2 separate regions of the Homo sapiens genome follow, and region 2 is linked to region 1. The links come from fine-mapping of genetic effects on gene expression. Tissue or cell type: lymphoblastoid cells. Region 1 holds a variant in brackets; the other region holds the start of a gene. All regions are shown on one strand. Distances are between the middles of the regions.

The links. PIP is the estimated chance that this variant, and not a neighbour inherited with it, causes the effect. A credible set is the group of variants that fine-mapping cannot tell apart.
Region 2: it holds the start of LINC02328, and the variant in region 1 is the best candidate, but not a certain one, in a credible set for the expression of LINC02328 in lymphoblastoid cells (GTEx, PIP 0.66).

Annotation. Positions count from the first base shown.
Region 1 is chr14:85,943,143-85,948,531 of GRCh38, forward strand. All of the region lies in intron 1 of LINC02328 (long intergenic non-protein coding RNA 2328), which reads left to right. Among named protein-coding and RNA genes, the nearest start is that of LINC02328, 11 kb to the left of the region's middle. The variant G/A (reference allele first, on the strand shown) is at 2,611.
Region 2 is chr14:85,931,480-85,936,868 of GRCh38, forward strand. LINC02328 (long intergenic non-protein coding RNA 2328) reads left to right here and starts at 3,199. Exons shown (of 4, transcript NR_110155.1): 1 at 3,199-3,382. RefSeq lists enhancers at 2,684-2,733, 3,104-3,313.

The sequences.
Region 1 (5,389 bases):
TAAAAACAATATAGATACATAAACCATGTGAGCAATTCTAAATACTAATATCCCATGTTACAGTATGTAACATTTTAAACAAGTGCTGTACTTCAATATGATTCATTATACTCACCAAATGCTCTAGATAAATATATGTAAACAGTTTTGCCCATCATTCCTCCAAAATTCTCCTTTCAGCTCAGAGTGCACTGTTTAACAATCAAAGTTCCTCAAAGCATTGCCTTATGAAAAGGTTAGCATCAGCATGACACATTGGGGAAACTGCAAAAGCAACTTTCAATTGCAGCATTTCATTTCAACACACCACAAATTATCGCTCTTTGCTAGGATTTTGAACTGAAGAAAAAAGAAATGTCCAAATACCAAACCTCTAAAATATTTTTGTTTCCTTTGAAATAAGAGGAAGAAAACACTTCCTTGCAACCACTTGAAACAATAATAAGGCAGGTGTAACCATTACAGGGTAAAATTCTTTGTAAAAACTGTCACTAGACACTCAGACTAGGTGTCCTCATGCAGTAACTTGAGAGATCATTGATGCCATTTTTTTAAAGCAACAGCGAAACTTTGGGTCTGACAAACCCCATTCTTTTCTCAAAAATTCAACTGCGTAATAAGATGGCACTGCCTCTATACATCCATTTAATTTCTGCCAAAGGTATCACAAGCAATTTGCTCTCTAATGAAAATCATGAAAGGACTGTGTCTCATTTTGCAGGCAATTTTTAGTAAAAACCACAAGGGACTGGCATACTGGCATCTTATTTTCAGCTGGTAGGATTAGTTTGTTGAAAAAAAATGTAGAATGCTGAGATTGGAGAGTGGACAGAACTAACAGAGCCCTGGAGAGGAAGCCATTGTGCTCAATTATTGTTTGTGGAATGAATGAGTGAATGAATGACCAAACTATGAAAATCCCCAAAAGGATGTTTGCTGCAATGTTTAAATTAAATCCTCAAGTTGATTTTTTTTAAAAAAATATAACCATGAGGGAGATACCAATGAAGTCACAGCTTGTAAGGTATAATTCTCATTTTATGGTGTCAAATGAGATGGCACCAATGGGAAAATCATTCTGTCATTTAATGAATATATATTAAGTCCATACTGGGTTCCAGGAAATGTACTAGGTTTGTGAGGCACATTTAATAACACTACATATATTGCCCTTCCTTCAGAGAGCTGCAGTATAGTGGAAGAGGTAGGCATTCATCAAATAATCTCTTACAAATACCATTAGAACTTGTGATTAGTACTTTGGAAGAACAGTATAGGGAACTGTGGGACTATGAGGGTAGGTGTGGGGTCTGTCATCTGATTGGGGAAGTGGGGAAGAATGCCATCCTTGAATATATGTGCTGGAGCTAATATATGCAGTTTGAAAAGGCATTAACTATAGTAGGGAGTAGGAAGGCTCATTAGTCTGCTTTCATGGTGCTTATAAAGACGTACCTGAAACTGCAAAGAAAAAGAGGTTTAATGGACTTACAGTTCCACATGGCTGGGGAGGACTCACAGTCATGGTGGAAGGCAAGAAGGAACAAGTCGTGTCTTACATGGATGGCAGGAGGCAAAAAGAGAGCTTGTGCAGGGAAACTCCTGTTTTTAAACCATCAGGTCTCGTGAGATTCATTCACTATCATGAGAACAGCACAGGAAAGACCTGCCACCATAATTCAATCACCTCCTACTGGGTTCCACTCATGACACGTGGGAGTTACAATTCAAGATGAGATTTGGGCGGGGACACAGCCAAACCATATTGGAAGGAAAACGAAGATTCCAAGTCCTGAAGTAGGAGTCATTTTGACTTAGAACAAGTACTTTGTTAAGCTGTGTATAGACTGAACATGTCAAATGGAACCAAGTACAGATGCCCAAGAGTGAGGCAGGCCCAGCATGCCCAGGCTCTGCCTCATTGTCTGAAACAGTGAGACAACCTCAGGCAGACCAGAGGCCAAATCACAGTCCTGCACCACACAAGGGAGCCACTGCTGAGACCTAAGCCAGGTACAACTGTGGCCTCCTACACGGAGGATTTTCAAAATTCCACTTTTAATCCTTACCCATCTTCAGAGCTCATGTGTGAACACATTGGTAACTCTTCCATTTTATTTTATTTTATTTTGATGTGAAGTCCTTCTTTTCTCATAGATTTGCTCCATTTTCTCTATTAGATATCCTGAGAATGGCTCAGTGAGATGTCCTCCCACTTGGTCTGATGGAACACACATCAAATATGCAAATCCATCCATGCAATTTCTCTATCTGAGCTTTTATAATTTTCTATGACTTGAGACAACTCCAGCTTCCTTGTTGGGCATTTGAACCCCTAACAATTTGGCCTCAGCCCGTCTCTTCAGTTTTATGTCTGCAACTTGCTCTATGCAATGTGTAATCACATAACAAAAAATTCCTTTGGTTTTCATAAAAACATAATTTCCTCCCCTCATTTGGTGTGTAAATTACATTCTTCCTGATTAACTTAGCTTCCTTACTCGTCTTCCTTGTCCTTGTCTGCTTGATTTCATTTTACTTTTCAGACTTAGCTATCTTGTATCTCCTCCGGAAAACTTCCCCAGTGGCTAAGTAAGCAGATGTGGATTA[G/A]GGATTAGAAACATGGGATTTGGATTGAGGCAAATATGATAGTGAATCCTGGATCTTCCACTTACTATGAAAAAATATTTACCTCAGAGATCATTATAATTGATTTCAACTAGAGTAAGGACAATTGCACCTATATTCTTCAGTGAGAACTCAAGGAGTAACACATTACAAAGCACTTAGCAAGGAACCTGGATATAAAGAATATTTAGGATTATAAATCATGCTGCTATAAAGACACATGCACATGTATGTTTATTGCGGCACTATTCACAATAGCAAAGACTTGGAACCAACCCAAATGTCCAACAATGATAGACTGGATTAAGAAAATGTGGCACATATACACCATGGAATACTATGCAGCCATAAAAAATGATGAGTTCATGTCCTTTGTAGGGACATGAGTGAAGCTGGAAACCATCATTCTCAGCAAACTATCGCAAGGACAAAAAACCAAACACCGCATGTTCTCACTCATAGGTGGAAATTGAACAATGAGAACACATGGACACAGGAAGGGGAACATCACACACCGGGGCCTGTTGTGGGGTGGGGGGAGTGGGGAGGGATAGCATTAGGAGATATACCTAATGCTAGATGACGAGTTAATGGGTGCAGCACACCAACATGGCACATGTGTACATATGTAACAAACCTGCACGTTGTGCACATGCACCCTAAAACTTAAAGTATAATAATAATAAAATAAAAAAAAATTTCATAGTTGGTACTAACAATTATTGCTATTGTTGTTCATCATTGTTGCTGTATAGATGACTATTCTATGGCTCTGATGGAACATTTTTCATGACATTAAGCACAGTAGATTGACAATATATTTTTGCACCCCCATGTTTCACTTCAAACTACAAGATCCTAGGTCACACACCCTGACACATAACAGACTGAAATACAGACATAGATGACGTCTGTTCAGTCTTTGCTGTTCTCTGAACAGCGAATAAACTTTTTCTCCCCCAACTTGATATCCATACTCAGAAAAAGCTCATAACTTCCCAACTCATTAGCTGTGTAGGTGTTAGAATTTCTCCATTAGTGTCAAGGAAATAAAGCCAAATTGAAAGCAATTAGCCAATTGTATTTGGGTAGTTTTTTCCTTTTGGCTCATTTTAAATACAGACAGACTAAATTACCTCTACAGCTTGTCTTTGAAGTGTTGTTGTTTTTTTTTTTCTTTTTTAAATGCACAGATTGTATTTAGGTTATAAATAGAAAAATTGCATCTTTTCAATTTTTAAAAATATGCTGAATTCAATAAAATTATAATGGGTATTTATGAATCCTGGAACAGATAATAAATGCTTTTAGGACAAATTCTTTGGCTAGTATAACATATTAAAAAATAGCTTTTGGTACTAAAAACCTTAAGCCTTTTTTCAACCTTTCTACAAGTCTTCACTAAGCATTGATTCTGTGACATAAGAAACTTAAGAAAACTAAAAGTCATGTATTGACAAAGTATTAAGCCATAGAAGTCAAAAATGTAGACTCAGAGACTGAAATGAAAGCCTTTGATATTTCCTTAGCAAAATTTTGTATATACACTAATGTGTAGCACTAGAAGACTATAAGTGCCAAATTATATATTCCATTTCCTTTGTTAGCTTTATCAGAGATATTTAATTCAGCCCATTTTGGGGTCGCATGTGGGAATGGTTGGTTGGGCTGTGTAGCTCTCTTCCTAGGGGTAGAGTACGTATCTCTCTTCCTCACCAATAAGTATCAACTGCACAATTATTTAGCCATCATTGCCCTTTATGAGAGGGAAAACCTTTTTAAATATTTTTCTGTCACTCATGATTTGAACTGTGGTTTTAATGGATTTTTATTCAGGTTGCTGATGGGTTTTCCAGTGCTATTATGACAGAAACGAGAAGAATGCATTTGTGTGTGTGTGTGTGTGTGTGTATGTGTGTGTCAAGAAGCAAATGACTTTTAGCTGGAAAGAAGTGGAGTCTGAGGAAGATATCTAAAGGAAGAGCACATGAATATCAGGATTTTTCTAGCAGAAAGATGGTCTCAGAGAAAGGACGCTTTATAAAAGAACCTGGCAATAGAGAAAAAAAAAATCTGCTGCAAAAACCATTGTTTTACTGATGAACAGCTTTGTGGAATAAATCTTCTAAGACATTCACTGTCAATCTCTCATTTGTCAAAACACTGTGCCAACCTCCCCCACAGCCCCCTTAAGCCTGTCTCCTAGACAATAGGCCAATGCCATGAGAATTTGCTCTGTGACCCAGTTTCTCTGAGTGAGGCTCATCTATAGTTTATTCTTGAGAAACTAACTGTAAGATCAAAACGACCTCTGAGCACTTAGTGGGGTAGAAGAGAGGAGATTCTGTGTCAAATCTGACTGTGTATGACCCAGCACCTACAACTGAGACGGTGGGGAATGGACACTCCTGATGCATACTTGGTCAGTTACAAATCGTTGTATTAGTCTGTTCTCACATTGCCATAAATAAATACCTGAGACTAATCATTTATTAGAAAAAGACGTTTAACTGGCTCACGGTTATGCAGGCTGTCCAGGAAGCATAGCAGCTTCTGCTTTTGGGGAGGCCTCAGGAAATTTGTAATCAAGGCAGATGGAAACAGGGAAGCCAGCACTTCACATGGCTGGAGCAGCAGGAATAGAGAGAGGAAGAAGGTGCTATACACTTTTAAACAACCAGATCTTGTGAGAACTCACTATCACAAGAACAGCACTGGGAGGTTGGTGCTAAACCATTAGAAACTGCCCCCTCCCTGATCT
Region 2 (5,389 bases), 12 kb before region 1:
TTTTCTAGGTAGAGGCAGCTGTAATGGCTTCCATTTGGCCTTTTTCTATCCTAATAGGCTTCATCCTACCTGTCAGGGAGCCAATGTGGGGGGTTTTTCCAGCTGCTAAGTGTATCTATGCCAATTATGCATTCTGGCATTGGGGAAATGACCACAGGATGAGTCCAGGGACCCGCTAGACCCACCATAAATTGGACCTGAGCTAAAACCCCATTAATTACCTGACATCCGTAAGCCCCTACTTTAACTGGAGGACCACAATGACGTTTTGGGTTCCCTGGAATCAACGTCAGCTCAGGCCAGTGTACAGTAGTCCCCAAAATGTCTGATCATTTCCCTTTCCCCAATGCACAATTACCCTGGTAAAAGGCCAGATGTCTCTTTGGGGAAGGATGGGAGAAAGATTCACAGCATAAATTGTAAGTAATGTAGTGGGGTTCTTTCTCAAGGGGACCTGGCCTCATCTTCATTTAAGGGGTTCTGGGTCTGTAAACTGGCTCAAGACTGGAAATTGATTGAGGGGCCATGATTCTCTGTTTTTATAATTCAAATTAGTCTTTTGTCCATTCGACCTAGAAGTTTTCTGCTTGTATAAATTAAGCAAAAATGCAGTAGGCTTCCTATTAATTTCACTTCTAGGAACACCATTATTAATTAGCCAATGCCAGAGCTCTACACAAATCAGACTGTTCTGATCGTCACTTTGCCTCTGCTGTCCATTACAGTAGCTATGCCCACCTTGCCTTTGATGGTTGAGTGCCACCACTTGGTCCCTGCCACCTCGGGATCCAATTATTCCCATTGTATTTAAATTTTGTATTGAGTGACTACGGTTCCCACTGTTAGATCTGACATACAGAGAAGGGCAATTACAGGTCTCTTCAAAGATGTAGGTGCTGCCCTCACAAATCTATTTCCCAAGGCATTGATCAAGGGTATATCTTCTGGACCCTGCCAGCTGGGATGAGTAGGTCTAAAGTGAATAATCCACTGTACCATCCCAATCTTCCTAAGCCTTTGGATCCCTTCCTCTACATTAAACCAAAGGAGATCAGGCATTTCTAGCTCACTCGTAGTAGGCCATCTTTTAATCTATATTTTAGCTAAACAAGCAAATAAACTATTAGAACCTTTTTTAACTCCCCCAGCTGAAACATTAAATGAACAATCCCTACTTAGTGGGCCCAAATCAATAAATTCAGCCTGATCCAACTCTATGTTCCTTCAACCATTATCCCACACCCTTAATATCCATTCCCATGCCTGTTCTCCAGATTTCTGTTTAAACTCAAGCAATTCTTTTTGGGTGTAGAACATCTCATGGGTCACACTCTCAACCTCACCTCTAGAGGCTCGCCTGGACTTTAGTCTAGTTATAGGTCTAGAAGGAAACAGGGGTGTTGGAGGTGGCTCCTGAAGATAATCAACTTTACCTTGCCTGGAAACTGCCTCAAGGGAGGCCATCACTGTTGCCTCAGGCAGCACAGGGTTTATCTCCTCAGACAAAGGTGGAAAGGCTGATGGCAGTGTGGGTCAGGGAGGGGATATTGTCTCTACTGGGGATGGGGAAGCTGTTTCCTCTGGCCGAAAAGTTTCATCAGAGTTTACAAACTCAGTGTCCCCAGCTTCATTAGGGTCCTCCCACACGTCCCCATTCCAAGTTGCAGGGCCCCATTCTTTTCTAATCAAAGCGCTCACTTTAACAGTGGACACCTGGTGAGGCTGTGCATGCATCTTTCATTACAGGTCAGCCTACATGATAAGGGTTTGTGTCTGTTTTTCCACAATTTCAGCTCTTTCTCTACAGGAAGATAAGACTCTCACTCAGGGCAGTCTTAGCAGATTTGAGGCTCAGTATCTGCTTCTGAGGCCGGGAGATAGAATCCCTGAGTTCATTATTTTCTTTCATCACTTTTTCCACTGAACTTAGGAGCAACCAACCAGCTTCATTATGTTCCTTGGTTCTCCACATATGGTCAAAGGTATTACATGTAGAGTCACTAAAATCCTTGCCTCTCAGGAGCGATGAATCAGGAGTGTCAAATGCATTTATTTTGCATATTTCTCGAACAGTTCATGCCAAGGATTATCAGTGTTCTCCATGCTATTAGAAGTAGAGTTCTTAGCATTTTTGGCGTCTAATATTAAGCAGCCAACACCAGAAATTCCAAAACCAATGAAAGAACTACATCCTTAATATTCTGTTCCTCTAGAAGACCACTTCTGGTACCAACATCTGTATCAGGGTTCTCTAGAGGGAAAGAACTAATGGAACACACATATATACATAAAGGGGAGTTTATTAAGTATTAACTCACACAATCACAAGGTTCCACAATAGGCTGTCTGCAGGCTGAAGAGTAAGAAGAGCCAGTCTGAGTTCCAAAACTGAAGAACTTGGAGTCGGATGTTCCAGGGCAGGAAGCATCCAGCACAAGAGAAAGATGTAGGCTGGGAGACTAGGCCAGTCTCTCTTTTCCATTTTTCTGCCTGCTTATATTCTAGCCACCTGGCAGCTGATTAGATTGTGCCACCCAGATTAAGGGTGGGTCTGCCTTTCCCAGCCCACTAACTCAAATGTTAATCTCCTTTGGGAACACCCTCACAGACACACCCAGGATCAATACTTTGTATCCTTCAATCCAGTCAAATTGACACTCAGTATTAACCATCACATATGTCTTTGCTATTGTGAGTAGTGTGGCAATGTACATACAATAGCATGTGTTTTTTCCAGTATGATGACCTAAATTCCTTTCGTTATATACCCAGTAATGGTGAGGGACTAAGTGGCTAAGTTGGCTGGACTTCCTGGGTCAATAGGGACTTCCCTAAGGGGACTATCCCCTAAACCCAAATAAGTCACAGCTGCAAGCTAAGGGATTTAAACTTCAACCAATCAAAGGGGACTTTCCCCTAAGCCAAAATGAGTCACAGCTGCAAGCTAAGGGATTGAAACTTCAACCAATCATATAGGGAGTTTAAGGTCTAGCTACAGCCTGATGTTTTTAACCAATCAGGCCCATCAACCCACAAGTGGGTTGAAAATAAGCTAATTGTATAGGACAGAAAAAGGAAAAGGGGAGGGGTCATAAGGCGATATAAGCATAAGACACCCAAGCCAGAAACAGCAACCCTTCTGGGTCCCCTTCCACCACGCAGAAGCTTTACTTTCGCTTTCACTTTACTTTTGCTTTCACTTTAACAAATCTTGCAGCCGCACACTCTTTGGGTCCGCCCGTTTCTCTAATCAAGTTGTAACACTCGCTGCTGTGGTCCACAGCTTCATTCCTTGAAGCCCGTGAGACACGAACGCTTCCATTGAGAAAAACCTTCCATCAGAAGAAGACTTCTCGTCTCAGTGGGACTGCTGAGTTGAATGGTACCTCTGTTTTAAGTTCTCTGAAAAGTCTCCAAACTGCTTTTTATAGTGGCTGAACTAATTTTCATTCTCACCAACAGTGTATAAATGTTCCTTTTTCTCTAGACTCGCCAGCATATGTTGTTTTTTGACTGTAGAGTAATAGCCATTGTAACTGGTTTAAGATGATATAGCATTGTGGTTTTGATTTGCATTTCCCTGATGATTAGTGATGACAAGCATTCTTTCATGTTCGTTGGCCGCTTGTATGTCTTCTTTTAAGAAGTGTCTGTACATGTCCTTTGCCCATTTTTTAATGTATTCTGTTTTTTGCTTGTTGTAAGTTCCTTACAGATTCTGGATATTAGGCATTTGTTGGATGCATAGTTTGCAAATATTTTCTCACATTCTGTAGGTTTTCTGTTTACTCTATTGGTAGTTTCTTTTGCTGTGCAGCAGCTCTTTAATTAGGTCCCACTTGTCAATTTTTGTTTTTGCTGCAATTGTTTTTGGGGACTTAGCCAAATTTTCTTTGCCAAGGCCAGTGTTGAGAAGGATATTTCCTAGGATTTTTATAGTTTGAGAGCGTACATTTGAGTCTTTAATTCATCCTCAGTTAATTTTTGTATCTGGTGAAAGGTAGGGATCCAGTTTCAATCTTCTGCATACTAACCAGTTATCCCAGCACCATTTATTGAATAGAGTGTCCTTTCCTTGTTGCTTGTTTTTGTTGGCCTTGTTGAAGATTGGATGGTTGTATAGTCACAGTTTACCTTGTATCTGGGATCTCCTAACCTCCTAAATAATTTTTTAAAAATTTTCATACATTACGGTTAAGTTTTTGTGCTCTAGACTTTTATGGGTTTTGATAAATGCATAATATCATCTATCCACCATTGCAGTATCATACAGAATAGTTTCACCACTCTAGGCAATCTCTTGTGCTTCACCTACTCAAATCTGTGTCTGTGAACCTCTAGAAACCACTGATATCTTTATTTTCTTTATTTTTTCATTTTTAGAGACAGGGTCTTGCTTCGTTTCCCAGTCTGGAGTGCAGTGGCACCATATATATGGCTCACTGCCACCTTTACTTCCTGGGCTCAAAGGATCCTCCTGCCTCAGCCTCCCAAGTAGCTGGGACTACAGGTGTGCACCACCATGCCCAGCTAATTTTTAATTTTTTTTGTAGAGCCAGGGTCTTGCCATCTTGCCCAGGCTGCTTTCAAATGATATCTTTACCCTCTCTATAAGTTTGCTTTTTCCAGAATGTAATATAATCATGCAGTATGCAGCAGTCCTTTCATGCTGGCTTCTTTCATTTAGCAATACACATTTAAGAATCATCTATGTCCTTGTACAGCTTGATAGCTCATTCTTTCCTATCTCTGAATAGTATTTCATTGTATGGATATACCAGAGTTTATTCATTTCTGTGTTGAAGAACATCTTGATAGCTTTCAGTTTTTGGTGATAATTTTATAAAATTCTATAAACATTCATGTGAAAGTTTTCTGTAGTTAAAATTTCTCAAATCATCTAGGTAAATATCTAAGAACCCAGCTGCTGGATTACAAGGTAAAAATATGTTTAGCTTTGTTAGAAACTGCTAAGTTATCCATCAGAGTGGTTGTACCATTCTGCATTTTCTCCGGTGATGAATGAGAGTTCTTGTTGCTCCTCATCCTAACCAGTATTTAGTATTAGCATATTTTGGTTTTTAGCCCTCTTAATACATGTACAATGTTATCTCATTATTATTTTAATTTTTATATACCTAATGACAACCAATGTTGAGCATCTTTACATGTACTTATTTGCCATATATATGGTGGTATCTGTTTAGAACTTTTGCTTACTTTTTAATTGAGTTGTATTTTATTCTTGAGTTTTAAGCATCACTCTGTATATTTTGGATGTATTATTTTTATTTTTTCTATCTTTTTTTTTTTTTTACCAGATATGTGTTTCACAAATATTTTTTTCTCATTCTATGGCTTGTCCTTTAACTCTCTTAATATTTCTCAA